Homo sapiens: one gene and its partners. The protein of the gene in region 1 purifies or fractionates together with the protein of each later gene. This does not show direct contact. Each region holds a gene or a part of one and is shown in the gene's direction. Other genes may lie near its edges. The genes, in order: XPNPEP3, DNAAF1 and CFAP418.

Region 1 (3,655 bases):
CGTGCCTGGCTAAAATCATATTTATTGAAAGGTTTAAAAACCTTTAAAAAAGTGAGCTATGATTTCATACACTTTGAACGTGTAGTAGAGATTGTTTTACTTTTTAAAAATTACAACAATTGGCCGGGTGCAGTGGCTCACGCCTGTAATCCCAGCACTTCGGGAGGCCAAGGGAGGTGGATTGCCTGAGATCAGGAGTTCGAGACCAGTCTGGACAACATGGTGAAACCCCGTCTCTACTAAAAATACGAAAAAATTAGCTGGACGTGGTGGCATGCGCCTGTAATCCCAGCTACTTGGGAGGTTGAGGCAGGGGAATTGCTTGAACCAGGGAGGTGGAGGTTGCAGTGAGCCGAGATCGCGCCACTGCACTCCAGCCTGGGTGACAGAGCAAGACTACGTCTCAAAAAAAAAAAAAATTACACGACAATTAAATTTCCATCTATCGTAAGTAGGAAGGTGTTTCCCATGTAGTATATATTTAGAACCATTTTTATTTTAAAAATGAAAATATGTAGGACATAGAATCACATAGGACATAGAATCATAGAATCAGTGCATATCCAATCAAAGTTTTCTGGATTTTTTCCCCTCTACTTTCCCCAAAGTACTTTTTAGTCATATAAAATATTCAGACCTTCTCACTTGGATTGTTAGGAATACTGTTTGTAGCCTACTGTTAGAAAAAAAGAACAAATGTAGATCTGATATTAAGTGCAAATCATTTTTATAATGAGCCTTTATATCGTATATCTTAGGCAAATACAGACCATTTCCTTAGGTCTCTAAAGTTGAAAGCTGAACTGTGATTGTTTACAAAGAGAATGTATAGCAGATGCAAAGGGAGAAGTGAGGAAATATCAACTGTAGTTTTTCCATAGCAATGAATAATTGCTCCAGAATGGGAGGAGAACCCTTTCCTCTAGTACTGAGATCATTATGTGAAAGGATGGGACACTTTACCCATAAAGTCATGATCTGAGTATGTTTTTCTGTCCTTCTGTGTGCAATTATTCAACAAGTGCCTCTAGCTCAGTAAGTGGTGGTGAAGAACAGTTGTTCTAATTGTTTAATAATGAAGGCCGGGCATGGTGATTCACGCCTGTAATCTCAGCACTTTGGGAGACTGAGGCGGGTGGATCACAAGTCAGGAGTTCGAGACCAGCCTGACCAATATGGTGAAACCTCATCTCTACTGAAAATACAAAAATTAGCTGGGCATGGTGGCGGGCACCTGTAGTCCCAGCTACTTGGGAGGCTGAGGCAGAAGAATCGTTTGAACCTGGGAGGCGGAGGTTGCAGTGAGCTGAGATTGTGCCACTGCACTCCAGCCTGGGCAACAGAGCAAGACTCCATCTCAAAAATAAAGAGAGAGAGAAAGAGAGAAAATCAAAGCTTGACTAAAGCTTTAGTCCCGTATCATCCTTTATAAAGAACACTGAAGTTTAGGGGCAGAAAAGCTGTATATTCAGTCTTAGAATATCTTGCCATTTCCAGGGAATGACCTTTCTAATGATTTATAATCAAACCTTTATTGCTTCAGTCCTGAGAGAGTCTTAAGTCTCAACACTTTAGAGTTCCACGTTACAGGTTTTATAGTTTTGACTCTTGTTCAAGTCGTTATGACAGTTGATATTTCTTGTTGCTGGTAGTTTTGTTTTAAATTTATTTTTCGGCTTCTCATTCTAAGCTGAGACGAACATGGTTTGGTATGACTGGATGAGGCCCTCACATGCACAGCTTCACTCTGACTATATGCAGCCCCTGACTGAGGCCAAAGCCAAGAGCAAGAACAAGGTTCGGGGTGTTCAGCAGCTGATACAGCGCCTCCGGCTGATCAAGTCTCCTGCAGAAATTGAACGAATGCAGATTGCTGGGAAGCTGACATCACAGGTATGATTCCTATTGAAAAGTTTTTTCCAGCCGGGCGCGGTGGCTCACGCCTGTAATCCAAGCACTTTGGGAGGCCGAGGCAGGTGGATCATGAGGTCAGGAGATCGAGACCATCCTGGCTAACATGGTGAAACCCCGTCTCTACTAAAAAAACATAAAAAATTAGCCGGGCATGGTGGCGGGCTCCTGTAGTCCCAGCTACTCGGTAGGCTGAGGCAGGAGAATGGTGTGAACCCGGGAGGCAGAGCTTGCAGTGAGCCGAGATCGGGCCACTGCACTCCAGCCTGGGCGACAGAGCGAGACTCCATCTCAAAAAAAAAAAAAAAAACAAGAAAAAAAGAAAAAGTTTTTTCCAGATTGGAAAAATCGTAAGCTCTTGAGGTCGTATACCCAATGCAGCAGTCTCCTCACCGCAGAATGGCATCTAGCTTCTGCTCCAGTGTGTAGTGAACATACCTAGAGACTTGCTTAATACCTTGCAAGACAAAGTAAATCTGCCTTCTGTTAAGATGGTTCTTTTACCCATCAATCTTAATTATTTCTCCTTAGAACGACAGAAATTAATACTGTTTCTTTTCCTTATAGTTACACTAATAGTGTCAGTTAAACAGTTTGGTTCTAAGAAAGACTCAGGACCCAAAGTGACAATGCTTACAGATCTGCAGTTTATTATAGGAAAAGGGTAAAAAATAACCATAATATGAAAGTAAGGATATATATCACAGCCAATGGCTGTCTCAAAGCAAGGAGTCTAGAGAAGCCAGGTGCAGGCTTCTCTGGTCCTCCCTAGGTGAGGGCCAGGCAGGATGTATCTTTCTCTTACAGATTAGGAATCACCAGTGTTGTCATACTCTGCTCAGGCTGCCATTACAAAATATCACAGTCTGCATGGCTTAAACAAGAGAAATGTATTGTCTCATAATTTTGCAGTCTGGAAGTCCGAGATCAAGGTGCCATCATGGTCCATTTCTGGTGAGGGCTCTCCCGGCTTACAGAAGGCGGCTTTCTTGCTGTGTCCTTACATGACAGTGAAAGAGGGCCTTTTTACAAGGCCATGGTCCTATCAAATTAGAGCCCCACCCTTAATTACCTAATTTAACCTTAACTACCTCCTAAAGACATAGAGATTAGAGCTTTAACACATTAATTCTGCGGGAAACACAATTCAGTCCATGGCACATGCAACAGACTACCTCAGAATCAGAGACTCCAAAATGGAATCTCAGCTAGGGATTTTTGTTTTTTTGGTCACATAATCATATTCCTGCTACGTAACAGTAAAGCCCCCCGAGAGTTTTCACAGAGACCAAGTGTAAACCATAAATCTCACTGGCAAACTGATAGAAACTATCCCAAAACTCCCTATTTCATTTATTCTCTCCAAGGTGTTGGCCATTGACTTAATTTAAAAAAATCTTTTTACTGTGGTGAAATGTGCATAACATAAAATATATCATTTTAACCGTTTTTAAGTATGCAAATCAATGACATTAAGTACATTCACATTGTTGTGCCCACTTTTTCCCGACTTTCTCCATCATTCCAAATAGAAACTGTACAGATAAATAATAACTTCCCATTCTCCCCTCCTCCAGCCCCCAGTAACCTCTACTTTCTCTGTGAATCTACCTATTCTAGCTACTTCATATAAATGGAATCATACAACATTTGGCTTTTTGTGACTGGCTTATCTCACTTAGCATAATGTTTTTAAATTTCTTCCATTAGAATTTCACTTTTGTTTTTTAGATAGAGTCTCGCT
Region 2 (3,655 bases), on another chromosome or scaffold:
TCTTTTCCCCCCTCCGTGGACACCGCCCAGCAGGTAGCTTAGGCTCTCACTGGCCTTCTGGCTCATGGAGGTGTGACGGTTCAGTGTCCCATCCCCTTGAGTGAATGTTTGATCGCAGCCTTGCCTGTCACTCTTCCCTGAAGCTCTTCCCATTTTGTTGACAGTCTCAAATGCTTAGGCCCACAAGAATGGTACCATGGGAATTCACACATTGTCTCACAACCCCCCAAGAACTGTCCTTTGATGGGGCACGAATAGGAGAGGCATTTCTGGGTACCTCTGACCTTATACCTTGGAGAGGTGGTCCCCTGCCCACTTCCTTGTTAAACTTCTTCTAAACTGGTGTTTCTAATGTTCAAACTTCAGAATTTCACATGGCCCAGTAGGAGTTAAAGTGATCGGCCAGGCATGGTGGCTTACGCCTGTAATCCCAGCACTTTGGGAGGCCGAGGTGGCTGGATCACGAGGTCAGGAGATCGAGACCATCCTGGCTAACATGGTGAAAACCCATCTCTACTAAAAATAGAAAAAAATTAGCCAGGTGTGGTGATGGGCACCTGTAGTCCCAGCTACTTGGGAGGCTGAGGCAGGAGAATGGCAGGAACCTGGGAGGTGGAGCTTGCAGTGAGCCGAGATCACGCCACTGCACTCCAACCTGGGCGACAGAGCGAGACTCCATCTCAAAAAAGAAAAAAAGAGTTAAAGTGATCACGGTCAGAATTCACAGTGGGTTTCTAGTTTTCTGGAGCTATGTAAAAAAAAGAAACAAAGGCCAGGTGTGGAGGCTTACACCTGTAATCCCAGCACTTTGGGAGGCCAAGGTGGGTGGATCACATGAAGTCAGGAGTTTGAGACCAGCCTGGCCAACATGGTGAAACCCCATCTCTACTAAAAATACAAAAACATAAAAAATAAAAAAAATAAAATTAGCTGGGCGTGGTGGCAGGTGCCTATAATCCCAGCTACTCGGGAGGCTGAGGCAGGAGAACTGCTTGAACCTGGGAGGCGGAGGTTGCAGTGAGCCAAGATCTCACCACTGCACTCCAGCCTGGGCAACACAGCGAGACTCTGTCTCAAAAAAAAGAAAAAGAAAGGGACATAATTGGGCAATTTATCTCTCACATTTGAGAACTGACCATATAGATAACTACAACACTAATAGCTAATGTTAATTGGTTTCTTATTATATGGGTGACACCATTCTAAGCATGACTTGTATTGATTGATGTAACCCTTCCTACAACTCTAAGCAGTACATACTATTATCATCCCAATTTCCCAGATGAGGAAAATGAGAAACAGAGAGGTTAGGCAACTTGCCCAAAGCCAGACAGCTAGAAAATGGTGGTGGGGGAGTAACAACCTAGGCACCGTGGCTCCAGTTCATGCATCCAACCACACACTATGCTGCCTCCCCAACCACGCACTGGTTGTTATGGACAAAGATACCGAACAAACACCCACAATACAAAACAAAAAAGTCCTACAAGTTTTGGGGAGGTACAAAATATATTACTTTTATACCACATAGAGTTTTCGGACTAGTTTGTACAGAGGTGCATTTGGTTTGGGTCCCATTATTTCCCCCAAGATGAACTGGCTGTGTCTCTTAATAAAAAAGCAGAAAAAAGATGTGGAAATTCTTTAAACACGTCACACCTTGCAAGTTCCCTTTCATTTATTAGATCCAGACACCTGAGGTGGCAACGCTTGCTTTGTGTGTATCTAGAGTTCCTTTTGGTGGGGAACAGGCAGGCGAGTCACCTGAGTGATTTGAGTAACTGTAACTAAGGCTGGGTTGACTGCGTGTTTGCCTTTATCGTGCCTATCAGAACGTTGACAGTGCGTGTACCTCCCTGGTGATGTGCGGCTCACTTGCTCTTTCAGGACCTACCTGACTTGGAAGATGATGATGAAACAGGCAAATCTCTGGAAGACCAGGTTAAGGTCATTAGAAACCATTTTCCCACAGGCAGCTTAATTCCACCTTCGTTCTTGTCGTTTACCGTTTCTCTCCTAAACTTGAAAGTAAAATGTTCCCTGTGCATAAAGCATTGAATTCCCCCATATTCTTTTTCTTTTCTTTTCTTTTCAGGCAGAGTCTGGCTCTGTCACCCAGGCTGCAGTGCAATAGTGTGTTCTTGGCTCACTGCAACCTCCACCTCCTGGGTTCAAGCAATTCTCCTGTCTCAGCCTCCCAAGTAGCTGGGATTACAGGCATGAGCCACCACGCCCAGCTAATTTTTGTATTTTTAGTAGAGATGGGGTTTCTCCATGTTGGCCAGGCTGGTCTCGAACTCCTGACCTCAAGTGATCCACCCGCCTCAGCCTCCCAAAGTGCTGGGATTACAGGCGTGAGCCACCGCACCCAGCCCACATCCCCCATATTTTCACCTTGCTGAAGGAAATGCCATTTGTTCTTGTTCAATTTCTTTAAGATTTTATGATGAACCACTTGAAAATCTATTGCTGGTTTGTAACAGCTGAGTACAGTGCATAGTTAGCTGAAAGTACTTTCTGTCATTAAGATGTATTTCTATGTCCATCCTATGAATGTCTGTCTGAATATAGGGGAAGGAAATGAAAACAGGAGAGGGGAAAGAAAGGGGTGAGTCTGTGAGGCACAATGGGGAATTCTCTCAGAGTGACGTGACCCTACTCCACCCAGAGGCCATTACTGGCATTACCAGGAGCCCACACGTGCCAGACCCGTACCCTGAGGGAGAAGGAGGCATCAGCCATCATCTCTGAGCACGAGCTCAGCAGCAAAGAAAACAGACACAGTTACTGTGGGGGGCCTGCTGTCCAAGGAGCTAAGTCCCAGAGAGTCTGTGAAGGAAACGGGGTTCAGGGGCATGCCAAGCAGAGCCCAGGGCTCAGGGGTGCGCCCTCTCAGGTACCAGGAGGGTGAGGAATAGCCAGTGGCTGGGGGAGCAGAGGGCAGAGAGAAGGGCATAGACATGAGCTGTGCCCAGGGAGTGGCCACCCCCAGGCCTAACTTTCAGAGTCCTGTGTTCCCTTGGGCCTTTCTTGGATGTGGCAACAGAATACTTTGTGACATTGGGTGAAAAAGCAGAACTGGCATGGTGCATTGTAGAGCGATTCTGTTGTGAAAACAGAAACTTTCAGACACCTTTTCTTCTGTAAATAGAATATGTGCTTTCCGAAGATTGAGGTCATCTCGAGCTTGAGTGATGACAGTGACCCTGAACTGGACTACACGTCACTCCCTGTGCTGGAAAACCTCCCCACAGACACTCTGTCAAATATATTTGCAGTCTCTAAAGACACCTCAAAGGCGGCTCGGGTGCCCTTCACAGACATCTTTAAAAAAGAAGCTAAGAGGGACTTGGAAATCCGAAAACAAGACACCAAGTCCCCAAGACCCCTGATCCAGGAGCTCAGCGACGAGGACCCCTCTGGCCAGCTACTGATGCCCCCCACCTGCCAAAGAGATGCTGCACCACTCACTTCCAGTGGAGACAGGGACAGCGACTTCCTTGCAGCCTCTTCTCCGGGTAAGAGCGTGGGGCCGAGAGCACAGTGGAGACAATGTTGGCTCCCCGGCCTGGGATGGGTGGGGCAGGGCAGTCACTCAGCCTTACCCTGAGCTTTCATGTTGCTGGAGGGGTCACCCAGGACAGACCACACAGAT
Region 3 (3,655 bases), on another chromosome or scaffold:
TCTTTCTGGGCAGTCTTATAGTCATGATGCCACCTACCCCAAACCCATATTAGCCCCATAGTCCTAGCACATTCCATTGGCATTTTCATAATGTGGGCAAACAGTTTGGCTTTAAGCAAACCCTACTCTCCTGCTGCTTTTGGTTCTATTTTTGGCAGAGGTCTACTTACCTAACTTACTTTATTAAAATACTTTTATCTAATTATTTCTAAAACACTTATTTTCTGTTAATTTTTTAAGAAAGAATGGCCTAAGTTATATGATTGCATGTTGACCACATTTCTGGAGGGCTAACTGTTGTATAGTCAAGTGTCACCAACAAGGATACATTCTGAGAAATATGTCATTAGTCATAAGTCATTATGACTTCCTCATGTACAAACATCATAGAGTGTACTTACACAAACCTAGATGATATAGCCTACTCCACACCTAGGCTAGGTGGTATACTAGCCTACTACATACTACTAGGCTATAAACCTGTGTAGCATGTAACCGCACTGAATACAGTAGGCAGTGGTAACACAATGGTAAATATTTGTGTATCTAAATATTAAAAAGGTACAGCAAAAATACATTGTAAAAGATTTTTCAAATGGTACAGCTGTATAGGGCACTTAGCATGGACAGAGCTTGCAGGACTGGAAGTTGCTCTGAGTGAGTGAATGAGTGGTGAGTGACTGTGAAAGCCTAGGATATTACACTAGTATAGACTTTATAAACACTGTAGCTTAGGCTACACTAAGTTTACTTTTAAATGTCTTTAATAATATTAACCTTAGCTTACTGAAACTTCATTTATAAATTTTTTTATTTTTTTAACTTTTGATTCTTTTTAATAACAATTTAAAATACATCGTACAGCTATACTAAAATATTTTCTTTCTTTGTATCCTTATTCTATAAGCTTTTTTCTATTGTTTCATTGTTTTTTACTTTTTTTTTTTTTTTTTTTTTGAGACAGAGTCTCGCTCTGTCGCCCAGGCTGGAGTGCAGTGGCGCAGTCTCGGCTCTCTGCAAGCTCCGCCTCCCAGGTTCACGCCATTCTCCTGCCTCAGCCTCCCGAGCAGCTGGGACTACAGGTGCCCGCCACCACGCCCGGCTAATTTTTTGTATTTTTAGTAGAGACGGGGTTTCACTATGTTATCCAGGATGGTCTCCATCTCCTGACCTCATGATCTGTTCTCCTCGGCCTCCCACGGTGCTGGGATTACAGGCGTGAGCCACTGCGCCCAGCTCTGTTTTTCACTTTTTAAACTTTTTTGTTAAAAATGAAGACACAACACTCACATTAGCCTGGGCCTATACAGGGTCTGGGTCATCCATATCACTGTCCTGCACTTCCACATCTTGCGCCACAGGAAGGTCTTTGTTGCGGGGGTACAACACGCATGGGGCTGTCATCTCATAGTAACAGTGTGCCTTCTTCTGAAATACCTCCCGAAGGACCTGCCTGAGGCTGTTTTACAGTTAACTTTTTTTAATAAGTAGAAGGAGTACATTCTCAAATAATGATTCAAAGTATAGCATAGTAAAAGTATGAACCAGTAACATAGTTTATTATCATTATCAAGTATTATGTACTATACATAACTGTATGCACTACTTTTATACAACTGGCAGCTCAGTAGGTTTGTTTACATCAGCGTCACCACAAACACATGAGTAAGCATTGTGCTATATAGGACAGCTATGATGTAACTAGGAATAGGAATTATTTAGCTCCGTTATAATTCTATAGGACCACTGTTGTATATGTGGTCCGTCATTGACCAAAACATCACTGGGGCAAATTAATTATATTGAATAATAGAAGTGGGAGTTAAAAAAAACATTGTTGGAGGGTTGTGGTGGTGCCAGCCTACATCGAAGGACAATGCCCAGAAGGTAGGGCTATAGGACAAAAGTGAAATTAGGAGTCTGGAGAAGCCTTATATGGGAACACCAGGCAGCCAACAGGCTAATATAAATCCACTGGAATGTTACCTACTGTTAGAGCTATAAAGAAGAATTAATAGTAATTGAATCACCATGTGTTGAGGACTCTCTGTACAAAAAAATTAGAGATACAAACTGCCTGTAGAGGTAGTGTTGTTGCTGTCAGTCCTAAATTGCCTGTCTCAACTCAGTTGGGACTTGTCTCCGTCATTTTCAGAGCCATGCCTCCTCTATTCCAGGCATCTCTCAAGTCACCCATGAGCCACAGCAGCAGTTTCCCAGTTATCATCCACTTACATCTTTTCTAATATCACCCACATATAGCATTCAAGATAATATCCCTAAAATACTATTCTGAGTGCCTCTCCTCTATTCAGAAGGGAAGTGAGAGTTGCCATTTGTCTCACATTAACTCTAAACTCACTATTTGCTTTACCAAATTGTTATCCTTGTTGTTCCTCTTCTCTCTTTAGTTCCTTCAGCTCCAATTAAAGCCTGGGTCAGATATTCCACTGCCACTGGGATGCTTGTCATTCTGTACTTTCCACTTATGTTTTTCTGTGTCTGAGTATATTTACATTTATTCCCTATCTGGAACAACACTCCCTTCTAATGCATGTCTCCTGCTGCCTTATCTGTTTAATTCACACACTGCAGATTGATTTTTCTATTTAAATTTTTTCGATTTTTTAAATCCATTGAATGCCCATGTCCTAAACCCTGTGCTAGCTTATCAATAAAAGGCAAAACACTGGCCAGTAAGGAACAAAGAAGCAAATGATTACTCCTGTGGCCTGAAATGGAAGGGCTCTGATGACAGAATGCCTGAGTTCAAAGCCTCACTCTGCCACTTACAAGCTCTGAAGCCTTAAGAAGGGATGTTATCTTCTAAAACCTGTTTCCTCACTCTTAAAAACTAAACATATTTCATGGAGATACTCTGAGGATTAAATGAAATAATACATGAAAACTATGCCTATGGTGCAAAAGACAGCTAGGTACTGCAGGCACACTGGGTTCTAATTAAGGTGTCTTTCTCATCCATTAGTCCTGCTTTCTTGTTACGTTATATCTCAGGGACAAGAATCTTTATTCTACTACTAGTTTTCCATTTTATCTCAGGAAATACATATAATTACAGGTGCCTTCTGTTTTTACAAATGATCTTTTAAAAAAATACATTCTGGTTTACTTCTAAAAAGTAAACATTTCATTAAGATTTTCTTATGTATGAAATATTTTGTACGTACTTTGATTTAGTTGTAGCACAGACAAAATCTATGTTAGATGGAATTTCAGTAAACCAAAGAACAGCCTGTTTTCATAGCTCGAGGCTCCTATCACATACTATTAGTCCAAGTGGGATGCCGAAATCAATTATACCTGATTTCTACCTCCTGCACAGCTGTAAGAAGAGATACCAGTTGCATATATATGCGCAGGTAAATGTTTGTATTCACAGATTTTTTATTAGTTGCCCCTTTCATGAAACAGAATTTGCACCCATAGAAAGACAAACACATGTGTTCATCTGCATATGCAAATTTTATGTGTGAAGTACTTTATACTGTCCAGAGCACTTTTTATATATGCATATTGACTTACCTGCTCCACAAGAGAAAAACCCAAGATGCTGATCAAGAATTTTTACCTCCATTTTATAAATGAAGAGATTGAGGTACTTGTGTTAAATTCATCAAACACATATTAACCACCT

The links.
Region 2: the proteins of XPNPEP3 (region 1) and DNAAF1 purify together in Homo sapiens (affinity purification with mass spectrometry; one large-scale study listed by BioGRID and IntAct). This does not show direct contact.
Region 3: the proteins of XPNPEP3 (region 1) and CFAP418 purify together in Homo sapiens (affinity purification with mass spectrometry; one large-scale study listed by BioGRID and IntAct). This does not show direct contact.

What each region holds. Positions count from the first base shown.
Region 1 is NC_000022.11:40,884,623-40,888,277, forward strand, and holds part of XPNPEP3 (xaa-Pro aminopeptidase 3), read left to right. Parts: intron 1-1,690; coding exon 1,691-1,893; intron 1,894-3,655. UniProt on the Homo sapiens protein: Catalyzes the removal of a penultimate prolyl residue from the N-termini of peptides, such as Leu-Pro-Ala. Also shows low activity towards peptides with Ala or Ser at the P1 position.
Region 2 is NC_000016.10:84,172,782-84,176,436, forward strand, and holds part of DNAAF1 (dynein axonemal assembly factor 1), read left to right. Parts: intron 1-1,887; coding exon 1,888-1,941; coding exon of another isoform or gene 1,942-1,947; intron 1,948-2,571; coding exon of another isoform or gene 2,572-2,911; exon of another isoform or gene 2,912-3,151; coding exon 3,152-3,518; intron 3,519-3,655. UniProt on the Homo sapiens protein: Cilium-specific protein required for the stability of the ciliary architecture. Plays a role in cytoplasmic preassembly of dynein arms. Involved in regulation of microtubule-based cilia and actin-based brush border microvilli.
Region 3 is NC_000008.11:95,255,684-95,259,338, reverse strand, and holds part of CFAP418 (cilia- and flagella-associated protein 418), read left to right. Parts: intron 1-3,655. UniProt on the Homo sapiens protein: May be involved in photoreceptor outer segment disk morphogenesis.